2 separate regions of the Homo sapiens genome follow, and region 2 is linked to region 1. Evidence: fine-mapped expression QTL. A gene starts in region 1. The other region holds a variant in brackets. All regions are shown on one strand. Distances are from middle to middle.

Region 1 (12,050 bases):
GTACTCAATAAACATTAGCCATTACTGACTCTTATTAAAAGAAGTAGGTAGGTTTATAACTACCAGTTTTGTTTTGTTTTTTTTTTTTTTTGAGATGGAGTCTTGCTCTGTCGCCCAGGTTGGAGTGCAGTGGTGCAATCTCAGCTCACTGCAAGCTCTGCCTCCCGGGTTCATGCCATTCTCCTGCCTCAGCCTCCTGAGTAGCTGGGACTACAGGGCCCGCCACCACGCCCGGCTAATTTTTTGTATTTTTAGTAGAGACGGGGTTTCACCATGTTAGCCAGGATGGTCTCGATCTCCTGACCTCGTGATCTGCCCACCTCAGCCTCACAAAGTGCTGGGATTACAGGCGTGAGCCACTGTGCCCGGCTATAACTACCAAATTTTAAGAAAAATTTGAAGATGGCAAAACCAAGGTTTCTAGAATCACTTGTTTATATTTCTTGATGTAACAATCCAGCTCTGAATCATTCTGGCAAAAATTGCAGCCAATACCTTGTTTGGCTCAACTGACTACCAGCCACTGACCTCCACAGTTTCCATTATCACTGGTTGTACCTTCCCCCAGCGCTAGATGCCAACAGCTAACCTTGAATACTGGCAGTATTACAAGCTCTCACCTAACAGCAGGAGAAGGATGCACGAATGCATAGCTGTCAAAACTCTGCTGCCTATTCAAGATGGAATAATGACAGGCATGGCCAAATGGAGACTCAAGGCAGACTAGTACCTGACCTAACATCCACAGGTCCAAAGAATAATAAAGCTGATTGTGGAGCACTAATACACCATCAACACCCAAATCATCCTCTCGTATTGTGACTTATAATTCATAAAATGATCATCTTGAGGCAGGGCATGGTGGCTCACGTCTGTAATCCCAACACTTTGAGAGGCGGAGGCGGGTGGATCATGAGGTCAGGAGATCAAGACCATCCTGGTTAACACGGTGAAACCCCGTCCCTACTAAAAATACAAAAAATTAGCCGGGCGTGGTGGCGGGCACCTGTAGTCCCACCTACTCGGGAGGCTGAGGCAGGAGAATGGCGTGAACCTGGGAGGCGGAGCCTGCAGTGAGCCGAGACTGTGCCACTGCACTCCAGCCTGGGCAACAGAGTGAGACTCCGTCTCACAAAAAAAAAAAAAAAAAAATCATCTTGAAAATGTGTACTGTAAAAGAGGTCTACAATCATGTAACACAACTGAAATAAATATTCAAACTTTGTTTTAACTTAATAAATATAAGCCTATCTACTATGAAGAAAAAAACCCCAATATTCTAAAACACATTATTTTCATTAAGTATGTAGTAGATTAAGCTAAGAAAAGGACTTACGTTGTAATGCTAACATTTGAGGAAGGAATCACTAAAACCCGACTTGGTGCAATAAGCACTGATGTATCACATGTCACAACTCGAAGCCCCAGCAGGAACTTCCCTGGGGTAGCTCCACCTGCTCCCCAAATGCAAATTATCTAAGGAAAGAAGGATGATTTAAAAATTACTGGCTCAACTATACCAATTTTAAAGATAAACTTTTCCCACCATATTATTTCATGTTTTAAATTTTTCAAGTTGAAAGAATTGCATAGAATACTCAAAAGTTAACCATTTAACTTTATGCATTTCTGTAGGTCTCTAACATGTCCAATACCACAAGATGTCTGTCTCCTGTAATATTTCTCTATGACTACTATACTTTCTAGTAAGCTGCTTCTGCAGAAAACTACATTGCAATTTACAAGTATATTTTTGGACCACAATCTATAAGTGAAATTTTATTTGAGTTTCTAAGACTGAAAAATATTACAAAGAAATTGTAAAATGTCTCTCTTCCAAAAGTTTTTACTTAATGATTAGTTAAAATTTGGGAAAAAAAACAGAAAAGTAGACATGTGGAAAAGACATGAATAATTATAAATTTCGATTACTTTTTCGTCTTGGGCTGATAATCTAAAATTAGATTGTTGGCTAGGTGCAGTGGCTCATGCCTGTAATCCCAGCACTTTGGGAGGCCAAGGTGGGCAGATCACTGAGGCCAGGAGTTTGAGACCAGCCTGGCCTACATGGCAAAACCCTGTCTCTACTAAAAATACAAAAATTAGCCAGGTGTGGTGGTATGCACCTGTAGTCCCACCTACTCAGGAGGCTGAGACAGGAGAATCACTTGAACTCAGGAGGCAGAGGTTGCAGTGAGCCAAGATCACACCACTGCACTCCAGCCTGGGTGACAGAGCGAGACTCTGTCTCAAAAAAATAAATGTAAAAACATAAAATTAGATTGTTAAATATTAATTCTTGCTGAAGTCAGTAGCTTACCTCATAGAAACAAACTAATAATCTGTATATAAGTGCCACAACCATCATTTTCTGCAAGTCTTCCATTGATGTGTCTTCATCTATTTCTTCTATTATATAATGCATAGCAAACTTAGAGATATCCCTACACAAAATAATAGTTTGGGGTTATAAATAATTAGTTACCAGAACAGTAGCACTGACTTTTTTTTCATTAGTGCAAGTCATACATTTTAATTGAAATTCTAAACTAATCTTTAGATTCCCAACCATCTAGTATCATAAAGCATTCATTAGTTTATTCAACAAATAAGCAGCATTATCATGAGCAGACACTGTACTAGCACGGGGGAAATAAGGGTGAATGAATTTACACGGTCCCTGCTTTCGTGGAGGGTCTAACCTAGCAAAGAAAACAGAACAATAAATAAATAGCAATAATAAAGTGGGATGAGTGCTGTGATGGGGAACCTAGGATACTATGGAAACATACACCAGATACACTTAACCTTGTGAAGGTTTCCCAGAAAAGACAGTTAGATGAGGCTCTGAAGGATGAAGAGAAGTTAGCCAGACTAAGAAGAGGAAATAACGTTCCAGAAAGAGGGAACAGCAGGAGAGAATGTCTTGGAGAAAGAGAGAATATGATAGAAGCTGTAAGCAGTTTGGTGTGGCTCATATACTAAATGTGAGAGGTGGCAGTGATTAAGAAATAAAGGCAGGGTGTGGTGGTATGCACCTGCAGTCCCACCTACTTGGGAGGTTGAGACAGCCTCCTGAGTATAAACCACATGATGAAATTCAGACTTTATCCTGCTGGTAAAGAGAAACCATTGAAGGGGCTGAGCATGGTGGCTCACGCATGTAATCCCAGCACTTTGGGAGGCTGAGGTGGGAGGATCGCCTGAGCCTAGGATTTTGAAAGCAACCTGGGCAACACAGACCCCATCTCTAAAAAAACAATAAACATTTTAAAAAGAGAAACCATTGAAGGGTTTTAAGGTAGGAAAGGAACAGAACCAGGATTTATGATCACTTTGGTTTTATATCAGAGACTGGATTGAGATAAAACAGGAGACTGAGTTACCACTAGAAGGCTTCTGCTATAATCCAAGCAAGAGACGACAGTAATCGGAGTAGGGAGAAGCAATGATGATAAAAAATGGGCCAGGTGTGGTGGCTCATGCTTGTAATCTCAGCACTTTGGGAAGCTAAGGCAGGAGGATCATTTGAGCCCAGGAGTTTGAGACCAGCCTGGGCAACATAGGGAGACCCCATCTCTACAAAAAACAATTTTTTTTTTTAATTAGCTAGGCATGGTGGAGCATGCCTGTGGTCCCAGCTCCTTGTGAGGCTGAGGTGGGAGTGTCACTTGGGCACAGGAGATCAAGGCTGCAGTGAGCCATAATTGTACTACTGCACTCCAGCCTGGGTGACAGAGCAAGACTCTGTCTCAAAAAAAGAAAAATGATCTGGCAGTGAGGAGGTCTGGGGTTGAAAGCTATTCAGAAAATTGAACATAAAGGAGTTGGTATTTCACTGGATGTGGAGTGGAGTGAGAGGGAGGGACAGGGAGGAATCACAGTAACAGGTTTCTGGCAAGGACCCTGAAATTTGACTGCACAGGCTTGTATCTTGACTCTGTCACTTACTACCTTTGTAACATTTTAGGTTCTGTGCTCAACTTTTCATAAACCCAAATTTCAAACTCTATAAAATGGTGGTATTAATCTCTACACCTCATCTTGGTATTAAGATTAAATAAGAATCCACATAAAGAAGTGAGCAAGCTCAATACATGGCATATAGAAAGTACTCAGGAAGTGGTAACTGCTATTATGATTATTGTTAATCTGGAAGGATTACTCAAATAAACGTCTCACTTTGAAGTTCACTTGGGACTTGCCCCACAGTATGTGCAATCCCATTTGGAAATGCCATCTAGTTGATTATTAATTCACCTACCAAAAGCTCTTTATACCTTTGTCTTTAGAGACTCCACAAGATAGCAAGAGGGAACAGGATAGTGAGAGGTAAATTAGTTCCTGGCCTAAAAGAATAGGTGAATAAAATCAAAGCAGGTTTGGAGGCTCTTTTTACCTATTTTTGATAGGTGAGATTCCCACACATCTTATAGAATTCAGTAAGCTATTTTTTTTCCTTTCTAGTTATTTCTTAAAATCAACAAGAAAACAATAAATCTAACAAAGCTCTTATAAAGAAATCATGACACTGACAAGCCCATTATCCATATAGTCACGTGTAGACAAACAGAATGTAATAAAACAAGATCATTAAACAGTAGAAATTAAAACCCTTCTGCAAATGTCCTCAACTTACTTTATCCCACTGAGGTGCATAATGCTTAAGACAATGGTTGCTTTTATAAAGAAGAGAATAAAGAAATCCACCATCTCTGCCATAAATCTGTGGGCCAAGGATGGAATAACATATTCTCTGCCTGTAAATTAAAAAAAAAAAAAAGTTAGGAAAAACGAATCATTTCACATAAGCCTTGGAACACAAGCCATGTAATGAATTGCTAAAGAAAGTCAAGGTACAACTTAATAAAAAATATTTATAACCGTGCAGCAACTATTGATATTGATTCCACCAAGAATCCATGTTACTAAAATAGAGTAACAGAGAATCCACTATTTACTGAGCTTAAAGTTTGCTTTCATCACCTTAACGTTTAAAAATTGATTTCACACGGCCAGGTGCAGTGACTCACGTCTGTAATCCCAGCACTTTAGGAGGCCGAGGCGGGCAGATTGCTTGAGGCCAGGAGTTCGAGACCAGTCTGGCCCTGGCCAACATGGCGAAACCCCGTCTCAACAAAAAATACAAAAATTAGCCGGGCGTGGTGGCGCATGCCTTTAGTCCCAGCTACTAGGGAAGCTGAGGTGGCAGGACGGCTTGAACCTGGGAGGCGGAGGCTGCAGGGAGCCAAGATCGCCACTGCACTATCCAGGCTGGGCGATAGAAGCAGACCTTGTCCCCACCCTCCCCACTTTCCCCCTAGAAAACTGATTTCACAGATAAATTTGATTAGGGTACCCACTACATTTCACTAGGAATTCTAATGAGGAGAATCCAGGTGATCACATCTAAGTCACACAAAATTAAACATTTTTTAGTACAAATCAAGGTTAAATATTGGCAATTAGTATAAAGTAAATCCCTGTAATCCCCCCCCACCCGTTTTTTAGTTTGTTTTGCTTTCTTTAAAATAAACCCAGTGAGTATCAATCTGTCATCCTAAATTCTGACTGGGATCAGAGGCATCAACTAGTTCTTGTCCCATCTATCTGTGGCTAACTAAAATAAACTAAAAGTCTAATAGTTTAAATAGTAAACTAAGAAGTGTAACTAATTCAAAATATTCTAGTTCACACACAGAAGCAAAAACAATTACACAATATACAAGATATTGATCAAATGAAGTGAAGCTTTGACCCAATCAAAACTTCCTAACTCCACTTGTATCCATGTCGATCTCCTTTTATATCCGTTCAGTTCCACTGTCCTAAGTAGCCAATGTCTGAATAATTTTCAGCATTACCAGTCGAGCCCCTCCAAAAGTGGGTTTGCCATTTGCGAATTTAGCTTTGGCCCTCACTGCAGAGCGTGAAAACCAAAGGAAGAGGATGGTTTGAAGAGCAATTTCTTTTCACGAATAAACAACTAGTCCCATGAGTAAGGGAGTCAATTTGGAGTGCCAGGTCTAAAGGAAGAAGAAACTGTATTGCCTCCTTGTACATTTTGGGAATTTAGGGCCTGGACAAACGATAGCTAGTGAACTGAACGGGCAGGATAGTCAATCAGAGTAGAAGCAGCAGTTACAGGTCTAAAAAGCGTGCCAGCTCTACCCCACAGGCCCCCGAAAACCCTTCTACTCCGCCCAGCCTCCACCTCGCGCTTCTCACCTGCCTGTCGCCCGGTCTCGCTCGGGCTTCGCGAAGGGGCTGCGGATCCTACCCTCGTCACTGGAGTGGCCCGGACCGACGCCTGCACGTGAGGAGCCCGGGGTCCCAGGCCCGCGACTGGAGCAGGGGTGCTGATGCCGGCAGCTGTCCGCGGGTCAGGCCCCGCGGCCCCGGGGCTCAGGAAGTAGAAGGGGTTGTAATAGCCCAGCTGCGGGGGCGGCGGCGCCGCGGCCTGGGGGACTGCAGCGCCGCCCGAAGGGAAGCTCTGCGGGGAGGGCTGGGGGCTGCAGTAGGCTGGGAAGGCGGCCAGGCCGCTGTGCCAGGTGAGGTAGCCGCAGTAGGACTGCCACAGCCACTCGTGCACTTGCCGGGAGTACTCGCGGGCGCTCAGCCGAGCTGGTCTCTCTCGTGGCGCCGCGGCTTCGGGCGCCTCGCAGCCCGCCTGCTCCTGCAGCTCTGCACCGGAGCCGGAGGCCGCCTCCCCGCGCTTCCTGAGCTCGCGCGGCGGCTCCAATTTGTCGGCTGCGGCGGCAGCCGCGAGGCCCGGGGCTGTGGGCCGGCCCGGGGCCTGGGGTTCGGCCTGGGGGTCGTCGCGGGGGCATGGGACGGCGGTGGTAGGAGGGCCTCTCAGGGAAGGGACGGGCTCGTGGTCCCCTCCGCCATCGTCCTGCCCGGGAGGGTGGCCTCGGGCTTCCTCGGGCCCCTCGGCCATCGTCGCCTCAGCAGCACCCTCTGGGATACCTGTCACTGCTCCGTTTCCCTCCCCCAATGGCCCCTCCCCAACAGCCCCGTCACCACCGCAGCAACCGCAGGCGTCAACAATCCCCCGCCGGAAGCGGAAGCCCCGCCCCTCAGGAGCAACGCCCGCCGCCAGGCGGAGCTGGGAAGGGAGGGCGGGGAGGTGCGTCTGCAGTCCCGGGTTCGGGCCCTAGTAGTCGGTGGCTGGTCGGTGACTGGGACCAGACCGTCGCCTCCTCCCTTTTACAGCTTTAAGTCTGTGACCCGAGGCCTCTCTGTATATTCCCGTGGGGTTGGGCCTAGTTGTCCTGGGAGAAACTAGATGGATGAGGAGTATTTCCGAGACAGGTCCCAGGGCCAGCGCAGCCTTTTCTGTTGCAGAACCGCGACTGTTGTTTTGGGATCCAGGCCGGAGGGTTTGTTGCTTGTGTTCATTCCAGTTAACCATTAGTACTCGAGAAGGTGGTACAGAACGCATCTATCCCCTTAGAAGAAAAGAAATTAAAAGCCAAACTAAACTGGGATATATATTAATATAGGAAACTACCACTGAGACATAGGAAAGTGTATTAAAATATAACTAGTGAGGTGCTATGTATAATTCAGAGGAAGGGGAAATTATGCATGGGCCAGACTACTAACAAAAGGCTCCAAAGCCTGGGATACGCTGAGGGCCTTTCCATAACAGAAAATGAAAAGGAACCTAAATTTGAGACTAGATTTGAGGAAAGGCACAGTTGCGCTGGAGTAGAAAGCGTCTGTCTACCGCAGTGGAAAGTAAGTTTTCGTAAATGCAGACTAGCTCCAGGGTGAGGACAGAATCTAGCTTTTAAATCAGTATAATCTCTCTTCTTTTACATTTGAAAATCTCTGCAGCGATATGTTATTGTATCCCCAGCACCATACAAAGGACATACAAGGGCCAAATACTGTGGGAATATTTATTAATGATATTAATGATGATGCTGTCCGGGCCAAAGGAAAACTTCCGCTTCACCTTCTGAAGTTTCGCTGAAAGTCACTGACAGGAGGCAGTTAATAGGAGAAAAGACATAGACATTGATTTGACCATCGTTTTATGTGACACGGGAGCCTTCAGAATGAAGACCCAAAGATAACAAGGGAAATCGTGTATTTGTATGCTTAGGTTCAACAAAGCATGGACAGCCGTATAAAAAAATGACTGGACAAGGCCGGGCGCGGTGGCTCACGCCTGTAATCTCAGCACTTTGGGAGGCTGAGGCGGGCGGATCACAAGGTCAGGAGATCGAGACCATCCTGGCTAACACAGTGAAACCCCGTCTCTACTAAAAATACTAAAAATTAGCCAGGCGTGGTGGCGGGCGCCTGTAGTCCCAGCTACTCAGGAGGCTGAGGCAGGAGAATGGCGTGAACCCGGGAGGCGGAGCTTGCAGTGAGCCGAGATTGCGTCACCGCACTCCAGCCTGGGCGACAGAGCGAGACTCCGTCTCAAAAAAAATGACTGGACAAAAAACACTCTGATGCAAACAGGCAAGAAACCCAGCAAGGCCTATCTGGATTCTCCTTGGCCTGTCTGCAGCATTCATTCCTTCTGGGTATGGAACAGGACCCTCTGGAATGGGGGCTGTGGCCTACAACAGTTAAACAAGGTAGGTCAGATAATTTTTCTTTTCCTTCTTTTTTTTTTTTTGACAGAGTTTTGCTCTTGTCGCCCAGGCTGGAGTGCGATGGTGCGATCTCGGCTCACTGCAACCTCCCCCTCCCAGGTTCAAGTGATTCTCCTGTCTTAGCCTCCCGAAGTAGCTGGGATTACAAGCGCCCGCCATCACGCCCAGCTAATTTTTTTTGTATTTTTAGTTGAGACGGGGTTTCACCATGTTGGCCAGGCTGGTCTTGAACTCCTGACCTCAGGTGATCCACCCGCCTCGGCCTCCCAAAGTGCTGGGATTACAGGCGTGAGCCACTGCGCTCTGCCAGATAATTTCTCTATGTCCAATATTTGCACAGAAAGGGGTGCAGGGAGGTTAGAGTAATATTTTTAGGTTTGTGGCTGGCTTTGGGAAAGGGTGGGGTTTTGGTTTCTATGCCCTGCTTTGGGAAAGACGGATTCCAGTTTCTATGACTAGCCTTGTGGGTGGGGGTGGGGGGAAGAATGGGATTGAGACAGGAGGGTTGGAGAAGGTGGGAAAAATCTTTTGCTTCTGAGGTCTTCATTTTGGGGTATGGTTTTCTGAGTTCCAACAATGCCCAGGGTCATTCTTTTTTTTTTTCTTTCTTTGTTTTTTTAAAGACAGGGTCTCACTCTGTCACCTAGGCTGGAGTGCAGCAGTGTAGGCACTCCTCACTGTAGCTTTGACCTCCCAGGTTCAAACTATCCTCCCACCTCAGCCCGAGTGACTGGGACTACAGGCACGTGCCACTGCCCCCGGCTCATTTTTTTCATTTTTTGTAGAGATGGGGGTCTCACTGTGTTGCCCAGGCTGGTCCCAAACTCCTGAGCTCAAGCAGTCCACCCGCCTTGTCCTCCCAAAGTACTGAGATTACAGGTGTGAGCCACCACGCCCAGCCCCAGAGTCATTGTTGGCTTTATTCTGGGAGATATAAAAAGCCATAATTTTTTTCCTTAAAAAGCTAATGATCTAGGTTCAAGGGACAGACTGTCAAGAAAACTGAAAACTTATTCAAGAATTCAAAATAAGGGAAAGATTATGGTAGCCTATAGCTAGAAAAGTTTACCCTTACAGATTTCATTTTAAAATCAACTATGAGAAAATTTTAATGTTTAAACAAGCATTCCAAGTTGGGGTGAGGGAAGAAAGAGAAACAGAAACAAAGAAATAAATGTGGCTTGGAATGAGTGAAATATGATTATTGGAGACATGGACTTTGTTTTGAATACCACTGTTTCTGTAACACCTGGCACAGTGTCACTGTAAAGATATAAAATGATATGAAACATGAAACAGCAAAACAAGCCAGAAGAAAAACTCAGGAATGAAGTAACAGAACTTGGGAAAGAGTTAGAAATAAAAGAAAAACTGATTTCAGAAAAGAGGACTAAAATACAAGGAATAAAAGAATAAGAAAATACAATAGTGTCTGAAAAGAACTACAATTTGAAAATGAGTTTTTTAATCAAAAATAAATGTAAACAGAAATAATTTGAGAGAAATGATAAATATTGAAAATAGGCAAAGAAGATCCAACATATAGATTAGAAGTTCTTGATAAAGAAAACCCAAGACAGGTAACAGAACTAATTATAACACATTATAATTCAAAAAAATTTTTTTCTGAAATACATATATATATGTGTCCTAACATTACACACACACACACACACACACACACACACACACACACTCTCAGAGTCATGAATCACTTAACAACAGGGATATGTTCTAAGAAATGCATCATTAGGCGACTTTGTCCTTATGGGAACACCATAGACTGTACTACTTACACATACCTATATGGTACAGCCTACTATATACCTAGGCTATATGGTATAGCCTATTGCTCCCAGGCTACAAACCTGTACAGCATATTAATGTACTGATTACTGCAGGCAGTTGTAACACAGTGGTATTTGTACATCTAAATATATCAAAACATAGAGAATACAGTAAAAATACAGTATAAAGGGTTAAAAATGATACACCTGTGTAGGGCACTTACCATAAATGGGGCCTGCAGGACTGGAAGTTGCCGTGGGTGAGTCAGTGGTGAGTGAATGTGAAGGCCTTGGACATCACTGCACACTACTGAAGACTTGATACAAAACTGTACACTTAGGCTACACTAAATTTATTTAAAATTTTTTTTCTTCCATAATAAATTACCTTTAGTTTATTGCAACATTTTACCTTATAAAGTTTTTGATTTTTTAAAAACTTTTCAACTCTTTTGTAATAACACTTGGCTTAAAACGCAAACACATTGTACAACTGTACAAAAATATTCTTTGTATCCTTATTCTATAAGCTTTTTATTTTTAAAGTTTTTGATAATTATTATTTTTTTTTACTTTTTAAGCTTTTTTTGTTACAAATGAAGACACAAACACACATTAGCCTAGGACTACACAGGGTCAGGATCATCAAAATGTCACTAAGTGATTGCGACACTGTACTCCAGCCTAGGTGACAGAGCAAGACCCTGTCTCAAAATAAAATGAAATAAAGATGTCATTAGGCAATAGGAATTTTTCAGCTCTGTTATAATCTTGTGGGATCACAGTGGTATATGACATTCATTGTTGACCAAAATGTCGTTATGCAGCACATGACTATATACATATATCTATATGTATATAGATATATAGATATATAGTATGAAATGCCAAGTCCCACTAAAAGAAACAAGGGGTTCTAGGTTTAGGGCAGGAAATGTATGGAATGAGCACGAAATATCTTATTATACTAGAGAGCAGAGAAATGATTAAAGACTTCTGGAGTCATGTCCAAAGGACCCAGCCAACTAGAAGAGGCTCCTATTGGCCATGGATAGGACAATTTGAGTTTCAATAAAGGTAATAATTAGAATGGACTGAAACCCATCGTATATGTTTAAATATATAAATTCATAGTAACGTGTAGTTTTACCAAAGGGATTAAACCTGAGTGTGCTCAAGCTTCTTGATCCAACTGCCAGTTTACAGAAATAGAGGACAAAGGAGCATATTGAAATATGCCATGAGTGTGCAATCTGCAAAATCCAGACCATGGGGAACCCTGCAAAGTAAACAACTGGGTTATTCAATATATATATTATAAGTGGGGGGGGGGGAAGAAATAGAACCTATAGCTTAAAGGAGGCATAAAAGACATTAAATTAATGAGCAAGACTATAATGTCTAGGGATATACTTAAATGCAAAAAGAAGTGGTTATTTAAAAAGTCAGGGTAGTGATGGGGGTGAAAGGAGTTTGTGATTGGGATGGAGCACATGGACAGGCTTCTGGTGTGGCTGACAAAGTTCGATTTTCTTGGTTTAGGAAGTGATTACAAGGATGTCCACCTTATAATAAACCATAAAGCTGTTGAAGAAACTGACAAAAATGAGGAGTTTTCTACTCATATACCCTCACTCTAAACTCCAAA
Region 2 (12,050 bases), 79 kb after region 1:
ATTTATGCAGATGCTCCTTGACTTATAATGGGGTTTCGTCCCATAAACCTATTATAAGTTGAAAATATTGTAATAGTCAAATATGCATTTAATACACCTAATCTATTGAACCTCGTGGCTTAGCCTAGGCTAACGTAAACGTGTTCAGAACACTTACATTAGTCCACGGTTGGGCAAAACCTTCTAACACCAAGCCTATTTTACAATAAAGGGTTGAATATCTCAGGTAATTTATTAAATAGTGTACTGAAGTCAAAAACAGAATGCCTGTATGGGTACTCAAACTGCTACCTGTATACCCAGATGTGGCCCTTCTAAAAACATAGGTGGTGATTTCTTTTCTACATGCTCAAAGTAAAAATTTTTGATAAAAGCAGACCAAGCCCTCAGAGTAGAGTCCAGAAGAATATAATGAACACATGGCCAGGCACAGTGGCTCACGCCTGTAATCCTAGCACTTTGGGAGGCCAAGGCAGGTGGATCGCTTGAGGTCAGGAGTTCGAGACCAGCCTGGCCAACAGGCCAACATGGTGAAACCTCATCTCTACAAAATATATAAAAATTAGCCAGGCATGGTGGCACAACCTGTAATCCCAGCTACTCAGAAAGCTGAGGCACAAGAATCGCTTGATCCCGGGAGGCGAGACTGCAGCGAGCCGAGATCGTGCCACTGCACTCCAGCCTGGGCGACAGAGCAAGACTTTGTCTCAAAAAAAAAAAAAAAAAGAAAGAGAACAAAAATGAAAAAGAATATAATGAACACAATCTAATATGCTCAAGTGATCCATATATTCTGCATAAATTGCCTTGATATGTGGCCATAATTATTAGTTTGGCTTTGCTGACATTTAGATCAAATCTGGAATTTCCAGATTGTCTTTTCTTCTTGTCTGCCAGCTTGAGAATACAATTTCTCATAAAAAAGGAAAGATAAAATTAAATTTTCCATGGGAAAACTTTCCAGGGTTAAAGATAGCAGAGTATACTCATCAAAGAAACAAACTCAAGAGGCCCAACAGTTATATAAAGACCAAGAGGGACATGTGGCTTGAATTAGCTGGACAGCTACTTCATTTGGCCAGAAGGGCCTAAGTCTGAACTACCACTAAATTCAGGTTTTTTTCTTTCAGATTTCAGGGGCATACAGAAACGACTGTACTTTCTCCAATTATCTATACTTAGTAGATAGTAGAGGTGGGGGTTAAGGCAAAACAATAGCTGTTAGAAAGATTAGTTACCTTTGGCTCCATATTATATATGCATTTTGTTTATTTAGGGATGCTTAGTTTGCATCAAGGGTGCAGACTGGACCAATAAACCGTGGCCAGGGCTTGCCTATGTGTTCTTTTTTTTTTTTTTTTTTTTTTGAGACAGAGTCTTGCTCTGTCGCCCAGGCTGGAGTGCAGTAGCATGATCTCAGCTCACTGCAATCTCCGCCTCCTGGGTTCCAGCGATTCTCCTGCCTCAGCCTCCCGGGTAGCTGGGACTATAGGCATGCGCCACCATGCCCGGCTAATTTTGTATTTTTAGTAGAGACGGGGTTTCACCATGTTGGCCAGGCTGGTCTCGAACTCCTGACCTCAGGGGATCTGCCTGCCTCAGCCTCCCAAAGTGCTGGAATTACAGGCGGGAGCCACTACGCCCAGCCTGTGTGTTCTGTTTTATGAAGGGTTTGTTTTACCTTTAGAAGATAATCTGCACCTTCCCCCATTTCCCTTTTTAAGAAAACAGTTTTTGCTTAAGTTAATACTACCTTCTGTTTCCTGAGTTTATACCAACTGAGAATGAAAGGCAGTGGGTGACAAGGGACAGGAGCAGAGGAGGTGTGGGCGGTTGATGGGTGTTCCTGAATAAAATGCATTGTCCATTCCATTCCTATCACTGGACAGAAGGAAAGACACATTTTGGCTGGGTGCGGTGGCTGACGCCTGTAATCCCAGCACTTTGGGAGGCACAGAAGGTTGGATCACCTGAGGTCAGGAGTTTGAGACCAGCCTGGCCAACATGGTGAAACGCTGTCTCTACTAAAAATACAAAAATTAGTCAGGTATGGTGGTGCGTGCCTGTAATCCCAGCCGCTCTTGAGGCTGAGGCAGGAGAATAGCTTGAACCCGGGAGGTGGAGGTTGCAGTGAGCTGAGTTCACACCACTGCACTCCAGGTTGGGCGACAGAGCGAGACTCCATCATTAAAAAAAAAAAAAAGACACATTTTCATGCAGCTTTTGAAAAACAGACATGATCTATAGTTAATGGACTAACGCTTTGGAAATTTCATTGTGATGACAAATGAATACAGTGGATTTAGCAAATGTGTTTGAATCCTATCTGTTTTCAAGTCACTGCTGTCCCAGAACCAGGGTACCAGTCACTGCTACTGATCTCAGGCTGAACTGGAAATGGAGCCTGCATTCAATGAGCTCATAGTTTAGGAAGAGAGGATACTTCTGTGTTCCCAGACGTGGCAGGCACTTGGCTCCCAGACTTTGAGTCTTTGCTCAGGGCGTGTCTAGTTTGGAAGGCTCTTGCCCAACTGACTATCTGGAAAACAGCCTTCAAGCCTCAACCAAAATGTGTCTTTCCTCCTTTCGTAGGGTTTTTGGAACTCTCTTAGGAGGGAATTCCATGTTTCAATGTGGCACAGTGCCTGAAACATGGTTAAGTGCTTCATAAACATGTTACTGAATGAGAAAATAACTGCCATATAAGGTAGGAAATGCTAAGCAACACAAAAGAAATGGAGAGTATAAGAAGTGCTATGCAGCCGCTGAGGATGGAAGGATAACTTCCAGCTTGTGGTGGGCATGGTGATAAGCAGAGGTTGGAGAAGCTTCTTTTTTCTTTCTTTTTTTTTTTTGAGATGGAATCTTGCTCTGTCACCCAGGCTGGAGTGCAGGAGTGCAGTGTGTGATCTACGCTCACTGCAGCCTCCGCCTCACAGGTTCAACCGCCTCGCAGGTTCAATAAATGTATATTAACTTGCTAGCCCTTATTTTAGAGAGCTTTGAATTCTTGATTATGAAAAAGTTCTGGTAAATAAAATAATACTGACCATTAAAGTAGGCAGCTTTAAAAGCTACTACTATTTTGATTGATGGAGAGAAAGATTTAATACTCTAAAATGGCCAGGTGTGGTGGCTCATGCCTGTAATCCCAGCACTTTGGGAGGCCAAGGCGGGAGGATCACCTGAGGTTAGGATTTCGAGACCAGCCTGGCCAACATGGTGAAACCCCATTTCTATTTTTAAAAAAAGTACAAAAAGTAGCCAGGTGTGGTGGCGCGCACCTGTAGTCCCAGCTACTCGGGAGGCTGAGGCAGGAGAATCGCTTGAACACGAAAGGCAGAGGTTGCAGTGAGCCAAGATCATGCCACCACTGAACTCCAGCCTGGGTGACAAGAGCGAAACTCCAACTCAAAAAAAAAAAAAAAAAGAAAAGAAAAGAAAAGAAATACTCTAAAATATTTATAGATTCTTATTAAGGTATGAGGCAGGCTTGACTGGGGCTGGGCAGGACTTGAATGCCAAACCAGACTGAAGACTCGCTGCAATGGGGGAAAGAGGTGAAAGCACCTCTCCAGAAGACATGCCCACCAGGGCCATGTCAGTTGACCACTGCCATGGCAACACCTGGAAGTTACTAACTACCCCTTTCCATGGCAATGACCTGGAAGTTATCACCTCTTTTCTAGAACTTTCTGAATAACTTCCCCCTTAATTTGCCTATAATTAAAAGTGAATATAAATATAATGGCAGAATGGTCCCTGAGCTGCTACTCTGGGCACAGTTCCTATGGTACCCCTGCTGCTGCTGCACATTGCTGCTGCCATAGAAGCTGCTGTCTAACACCGCTGGCTCACCCTTGAATTCTCGCCTGGGCAAAGCCAAGAACCCTCCTGGCTAAGCCCCACTTTTGGGGTTCACCTTCCCTGCATCATTATCAACTGACACTAAAACTCAAAGGTATTTATGAGATAATAAAAACAGTTCTAAATAGAACACATTTACTTAGAGCTTCACAGTATAGCTCTTAATGACTGTGTGTGAAATTGGAGATATTTGACTATTTTTCACCTATTCTATTGAAGATATAGCACAGATTAAAATGAAAATTCACAAATACCCCAAATTTCAAAAGGCAGAAATTGAAGCCATAAGAAATAATCCATCAAATTAGACAACTGGTCCAGAAATAATCAAGAGATCATTACAGGAAAACTTCTTACTCCTTTTTTTTTTTTTTTTTTTTTTGAGACAGAGTCTTTCTCTGTCACCAGGCTGGAGTGCAGTGGCGCGATCTCAGCTCACTGCAACCTCTGCCTCCTGGGTTCAAGCCATTCTCTCCTGCCTCAGCCTCCTGAGTAGCTGGGACTACAGGCATGCGTCACCACGCCCAGCTAATTTTTGTATTTTTAGTAGAGACGGGGTTTCATCATGTTGGCCAGGATGGTCTTGATCTCTTGACCTTGTGATCCAACCGCCTCAACCTCCCAAAGTACTTTGATTACAAAAACATTTTACTCCTTAATTCTGTAAAACTGCATCTGCCTCCAGTCCTCCAGAAACTGCTCTTGGAAGGTTACTAATAACATGGTAAACATGGCTGATGACAGCCTTTGTCCAATCCTTATTCACCACAGCTTACTACAGTTGGTATCACTGGCCAGCCTGTTTTCCCTATAGCTTTGAGACTCTCCATTCTTCTAGTTCTCCTATCTCTTGTCTCCTTGATTAGTTTACCCCATTCTTGAAATAATAGTGTTTTCCAAGGTTTTATCCTTGATCTCACTCTCTCTTTTTTAACCATCTTATTTATTTGCCGGTCTTTTCTAGGTAGATGACTCCCAACACGTACATCGGGGTCTCCCCCTTCAGTGAATTCCAGATCTAAATCTCACCTCCTGACTCCACGTGTTTGGATGTCTCTCCTATACCTCCCGCACCTCAAACACAATGCAGTGAAACCCCAGGTGAAGATTTTTCTTCCTTCTCTACCAGCTCCTCCTTGCGATTTCCCTATTTTTATATTACCACGATTCTCTCCCAGACTTCCAGATTGGAAATTTTGTGTTAGATTTTATGTCCCTTGTCCTCCAACTCAGTGGCTACTCCATCTCTTTGCATTGCCATTGTCACACTCTAGGTCACATACTAACTACCTCACCCTCTAGCCATCCACTAAAGTCTCCCAACACGTATCAGGGCCTCTAATCTCTTCCCCTCTCCATCTATCTTATGCAATTCCTAAGTCATTATTCACAGTGTGTTGCTTTCTGCTTAAGAACCCATGCAGGCTGGGTACGGTGGCTCACACCTGTAATCCCAGCACTTTGGGAGGCCAAGGCGAGTGGATCACCTGAGGTATCAGCCAGGCATGGTGGCATATGGCTGTAGTACCGGCTACTCTGGAGGCTGAGGCAGGAGAATCACCTGAACCCAGAATGCGGAGGTTGCAATGAGCCGAGATCGTGCCACTGCACTCCAGCCTGGCGACAGAGTGAGACTCTGTCTCAAAAACAAAAAACAAACAACAAAACCTATGGCAAAGGAAACAACTTCAAACACTACATAGCCCCACCTTCTTAGCATAATGCATAAGGATTTCACCATCTGGCCCCAACCTGCCTTTCTGGCCTCACCTTTTGCCACATTCAGCTCTGCAAAACCACCAGCCTTTCTCTCAAAGTACATTGTTCATGTCTTAC[G/A]TACATATGCTGAATTCTCTGCCCCAAAACTGCCCTTCCCTTTACTGTTTGCCTAGGGAACTCCTGCTCACCGTCAAGATCCAAATCAAGTGTCAGCCCTTTTGTGGCTCTTCGTGCCCACCCAGGAAGGAGTCTAATTCACAAGGCTTATTTTCCAACCTAGCTTTGTATTGCTGTTATTTATTTATGCATCATAATAAAAACCCTGCTGCTTCACGGAAGAACTGTAGTATAAATATAATGCCTGGTGTGTGCTTGGTACATGGTAAGTAGCCAATAAGTAGTTACCAAGGAAGTGAATTACTAAATAAATGAACGTGTAAAAGTGAATGATTTCCCTATAACAACTCCTTTGGCCCAACTTAAATACAGTAGAGCAGTGCTTTTCGAACTTCACTATGCATATAAATTACCTGGGAATCCTGTTGAAAAGTAGGTTGTGATTTGGGAGGGCTGAGGTGGGGCCTGAGAGCCTGAGATTTCTTTTTTTTTCTTTCCTTTTTGTCTTTTTTGAGACAGAGTCTTGCTCTGTCGCCCAGGCTAGAGTCCCGTGGTGCAATGCAGGCTGACTGCAACCTCCACCTCCCAGGTTCAAGCGATTCTCCTGCCTCAGCCTCCTGAGTAGCTGGGATTACAGGTCTGCACCACCACGCCCAGCTAATTTTTGTATTTTTAGTAGAGACAGGTTTTCACCATGTTGGCAACACTGGTCTCGAACTCCTGACCTTAGGTGATCTACCCGCCTCAGCCTCCCAAAGTGCTGGGATTACAGGCTTGAGGTACCGCGCCCAATCAAGGGGCCTGAGCTTTCTAACAAGTGCCCAGGTTGCTGTTGGCCCCAGAACCATGCTGCACTACAGGATGGGCCGTATCTTCCACGTGGTCCTGGTCTATGCAAGCGTCATGCCTTGTGTGGATTCCCTAGCACACTGCTCCCCCTGTTCTATCATGGTGCATTGCTCATCTTCTTCAGCTAGAATGCGCGTTTCCGTGGACAGGAATCGTGTCCACAATGCCATCTACCCATCTTTGTATTCTTAGCCCCTTGCCCAGAACTCAGTGCATAGTAGATGCTTAAGCCATATTGGTTTAATTATGTGGTCTCTGTCAGGCTGAACTCACAGCCACTTCCAACCTAACTTTACTATCTACCTGTGCATTTGAGGCTTCTTTGTTAGTTGATGACACTTCTTTTTTTTTTCTGAGACGGAGTCTCGCTCTGTGGCCCAGGCTGGAGTGCAGTGGTGCCATCTTGGCTCACTGCAAGCTCCGCCTCCCAGGTTCATGCCATTCTCCTGCCTCAGCCTCCCGGTAGCTGGGACTACAGGCACCCGCCACCTTGTGCGGCTAATTTTTTTTTTTGTATTTTTAGTAGAGACAGGGTTTTACCGTGTTAGCCAGGATGGTCTCGATCTCCTGACCTCATGATCTGCCCGCCTCGGCCTCTCAAAATGCCGGGATTACAGGCATGAGCCACTGCGCCCAGCCAGTTGATGACACTTCTAACCCCTGTTGAGCAATGTGGAACCCTTCCATAAGAGAATAAGAGTAACTGGCCACCCAGAGCCCCAGAAGGGACCTAGAAGCCCAAACTGAACTAAGTAGAACGACGCAGCTGTGGTCAGGTACACTGGCCAGGGCCACTCCGTGGGAAGAGCCATAGAGAACAGTGAGCTTTGTCATCAGACAACCAACACATCATCTGAGGCGCTGCCCATTCACTTTGATTAATACCCCTAAGGTGTGGGTTTGGTACAAGTTCTAAATGAAAATTTGGATATAAAAGCTTAAGAACAGTTTTCTCTTGTAAATAGCAAGAGGAAGGTAAAGAGGCCTGAAGACTTGAAAACGTACAAGGCATACATATTCATAGTTAATGACATGCCACAGAGTCTACATTATTTATAATAAGTCGGGATACCCTCTGGCTGAGTTTTAATTTGATCAAAAGTAAGCTATTAAACTTTCACTTTGTTAACAGACATTTGGCCTTTACACCAAGAAACAGAAAGAAAAGAAATATCTACCTGGAGGAAAAGAAGTGATCCTAAAGCATTTTGCTTTGGGAAAAATGAAACGCCACCTTGTCTATAATTGTAACCACCACCAACGACTTGCATTTTCCTGGAGGTTCAGGAGAGGCTAGGATGGATGATAGTGTATAGGATGGATTTTTAAAACCCGTATTATTAAGAATTACATTGGCTGGGTGCAGCTTATCATCCTACCATGCTTATCATCCTAGCACTTAGGGAGGCCAAGGCAGGCGGATCACTTGAGCCCAGGAGTTTGAGACCAGCCTGGGCAACGTGGTGAAATCACGTCTCTACAAAAAAAATATAAAAATTAGCCAGGCATGTTGGTGCACGCCTGTAGCCTCAGCTACTTAGGAGGCTGAGGCAGGAGGACTGCTTGAGTTCAGGAGGTCAAGGCTGCAGTGAGCTGCAATCGTGCCACTGTACTCCAGCCTGGGCATCAGAGCGAAACTCTGTATCAAAAAAACAAAACAAAACAAAAAACAGTAACAACAAAAAAAATAGAACTACATCACTATTACATAAGACTGTATATACATTCATCCATGTGCAGTTTTATTCTACTCTACAAATAATTATATCTTATTTGATCCCAAAGCTAAAGTAATTCAGAAATATAGGAAAGGACAGAAATATGTCAACAAGTTTAACAACCGAAAGTTAATAAAATAATCACATTTCTCCTAATCATAGAATTCTTTACATGACCTTTATCTGAGCAGAATTTTCTGAACAGATAATAGTCTGTTTTTAGAACAGGATAATAGTCTGCATTTATAGATTCACAGAAATGAAGAGTTTTGTAGGAAAAAAGTCAATTATTTCAATAATTATAAGGGTAAAGACTAGGCCTTAGTCTTTCGACTTTAGTTATCTGATTTGAAGGAAATGCCAAGGAATATTACAGCTCTGACCAACTGCGAGGGATCCTAAGTAACAGTGCTGCTAATGGGTTTGTGCCAAAAGATCAATTTGTTCAACGAAGTGCATTTGAAACTTAGCACTGAGGAAATGACACAAACTCATATGAAAAAGAGGTCCAGTCCCAAGGATGAAACTAACTGAAAACAGCAAGTTAGTTTCTGGTGTGGGGTCTTTCTAGTTGACAGCTGTCTTAATAAGTTGGAAAAAAGCTCATAGAAATGACAAGATTCCATTTACCATGGTAAATGTAAGAAGACATTCCAGACAGATTATTCCACAGCTGCCTCCTCCCACCCAACTCACCCCACCCCACCCGGCACACTTGCACACACACGTAGACTCTCTTCAAATCGCTGGTCTCAAAGTTTGGCATTTCACCCTGACAACTGAACAGGGCAGCAGTTGCCTGACACAGCTGCGGTCTGGAGGCAGAGGTTAGGAGATGGGATCAGGGACTTTCAGCTCCAACTGTTAACTCAGGGAAGGATGATTTTGTAGAGCCACGTGCCCTTGGACAGTCCAGGTCTCAAACAGCAGGCTGTCAGTCACTAAAAACCCCACAGAGTGCAAATCTCAAAATCCAATTTGAAAATAGAAAAAAACAACAATTACTGAAAGTACTTGAGATGTTAAGTCGTCATAAACTTTTCACGGTGCAAGTAGGAGTTTTGTGCAATGGACTGTGTCTGTTAAGATGGAATGGGTTTTTTTGAAAAACCTCTGGGCTGGATGTGGTGGCTCACGCCTGTAATCCCAGCACTTTCTGAGGCCGAGGTGGGCAAATTCCTTGAGCTGAGGCGTTCTAGACCACCCTGGGCAACATGGCAAAACTCTGTCTCTACAAAAAATAAAAAAATTAGCCAGGTGTGGTGGTGCAGGCCTGTAGTCCCAGCTGCTCGGGAGGCTGAGGCAGGAGGATCATTAGAGTCCAAGAGGTCAAGGTTGCAGTGAGCCATGATTGTGCCACTGCATTCCAGCCTGGGTGTCACAGTGAGACCCTGTCTCAAAAAAACAAAAAAATTAAATTAAAAAAAAAATCTCTGAATACTGTGGTGTCCACAAACATCAACACCACATCTTTCTATAGTCTTTCATGATATTTATCATTTTATAAATACATAGTTTTTACAGAGTTGTGATCAGTGGGCAAACAAATGAAATGGTCTTGCTTTATTTTTTCCTCCCAAAGACCATTCAATCAGATGATTCTAGGAGTCCTTTTCTCTTCTCTGCAAGAATGCTGCAACTCTGGCTATAACTGTTTATCCTCCATTTTGCTGGAATGTCGACAGGCCACAGTCAGAGAGGAGAAATTAGCTTGATTTATGCTATGGACTATGCTTTGGAATCTTTAAGTCGTTTTTAATAATTTAAAAGAAATTTGATTTTAAAATTCAAAAATATAATTGTTATAATATACTTTTTAATAGCTGCCCAAACCTTGGAAGAATAAGATAAAAAATCAGGAAATATATTTCTAGGCATATGTTTTAAAGCTTGACAAAAGATTTTTAATCATTTTTAATATCTGACCAAAACTTTATCATTTTCTCTTCCATTAGAGAAGTGAAGTAGATGCTTTGCTTTTACCATTTTGAATAGAATATTCCCCTGGCATATTATGTGAGCACATAATATGTATAATATAAATAACAGCTGTCATGGCAATCCATGATGCCTGATGTGCTCTATGGATCATATTTATTTTGTATAAATGTAACACGTTTTATAACTATTTATTTATTTATTTATTTATTTTGAGACCAAGTCTCACTCTTGTTGCCCAGGCTGAAGGGCAGTGGCACGATCTCGGCTCACTACAACCACTGCCTCCCGGGTTCAAGCGATTCTCTTGCCTCAGCCTCCCAAGTAGCTGGGATTACAGGTGCCCGCCACCATGCCTGGCTAATTTTTGTATTTTTAGTAGAGACAGTGTTTTGCTATGTTGGCCAGGCTGGTCTCAAACTCCTGACCACAGGTGATCCACCTGCCTCAGCCTTCCAAAGTGCTGGGATTACAGGCGTGAGCCACCACACCTAGCTTATAACACATTTTAAAAAATGTGAGATATGACTCACTAGTGGGGTCATGAAATCAATTTATTGGGTCTCAGCCAGAATTTTATAAAAAATGAAATAAAAAATAAAATATCTGAATGTGTTGTACATAGTAAGAGCAAGTATTGTTTTGTGAAGCTTGAACATAATAAGTATTCACTTTAGAACAAAGGAAGACAACTACATTTATATTTTTCTGTAATTAATAATCAATTCTCTTTTATATTCATAAACACAATTACTCAGCTTTGCACATTGCATTAAAGGTATTCAAACCATTTAAAAGTAATTTTCTATTCATTTTCCATGGGCACCATTAGAGAATTAACAGGCTAGCATTTGTTGACACTATTTTCCATAAATGGATTCTCATTCCTCTGGCCTTTATCTACCATGAAATAATAATAGAGCCAAGGGCTCCTGATTTTCATTTTACTGTTCTCTAATAATGATCTATCACCATGGCAAAGATGTGACACTTTCTCTTTATGATACATGGCTGTACAACAAAACACTATCTCATTGGAAATCGATAAAAAATAATTCCAATTAGTCTACATAAACACCCATCCATATCCACACATACCCTTACTTATTAAAACCCTTCACATGTTTTTGAATTCTCTTCTCAAAAGTCACAATGTTGTGGTTAGGAAAAAAAAAACAATCCGCTTAGTTGTATCTTGCACTGTGCATTTCAGTGCTATGGAGAAAATAGGCGAAGTAGAATATAAAAAGAAACATCAGTCTTGAAGGGTCGTGTTAACATTTGTAAAAGTGTTGGAAAACAAATGTAGAAGGCCCCACACTCTCTTGAAAAACCACAAACTCTCCTTTGGCATGAAGCCTGCTTACTATACTGACAGGGACATCCAGCATGGAGGGTTGGGTGCTGGGGTACTGCTTTCAGGACAGTGAGTTTTACCTCTGAATGGAATTCACAAAGAAGCTGTTTCATTCAAGTTAACATTAATTTCTTTATTTTATTTTGATTTCCATATGTTTTTGGTGAAGAGATGGCGTTTGGTTACACGAGTAAGTTCTTTAGTGGTAATTTGTGAGATTTTGGTGCATCCATCACCTGAGCAGTATACACTGTACCCAATTTGTAGTCTTTTATCCCTCAGCCCCCTCCCAACCTTTCCCTCAAGTCCCTTAAGTCCACTGTAACATTAATTTCTAATGGAAAGGAGTTTCCATGAAAAGCAAGTGCAGAGATTCAAAAGGGCAAGAAACATTCTAAGAGTCCCCTCATGATCATTTAGTTCAAACCATTTACTGAGCACTTACTCTGTGCCAGGCACTATACTAGGGGCTGGAGACAAGAGAT

Evidence for each region.
Region 2: its variant is fine-mapped to the expression of FAM8A1 in nasal epithelium (TOPMed, PIP above 0.99).

Annotation. Positions count from the first base shown.
Region 1 is chr6:17,595,300-17,607,349 of GRCh38, reverse strand. It overlaps FAM8A1 (family with sequence similarity 8 member A1), which reads right to left and starts at 7,048. Exons shown (of 5, transcript NM_016255.3): 1 at 6,229-7,048; 2 at 4,640-4,760; 3 at 2,321-2,444; 4 at 1,337-1,476. The coding sequence starts at 6,940. LOC102724591 (a long non-coding RNA gene) reads left to right here and starts at 8,374. Exons shown (of 5, transcript XR_007059485.1): 1 at 8,374-8,597; 2 at 11,374-11,479. RefSeq lists enhancers at 4,642-5,142, 5,143-5,643 and a silencer at 6,710-7,189.
Region 2 is chr6:17,516,274-17,528,323 of GRCh38, reverse strand. The region is part of intron 7 of CAP2 (cyclase associated actin cytoskeleton regulatory protein 2); the gene reads right to left. Among named protein-coding and RNA genes, the nearest start is that of FAM8A1, 78 kb to the left of the region's middle. The variant G/A (reference allele first, on the strand shown) is at 5,704.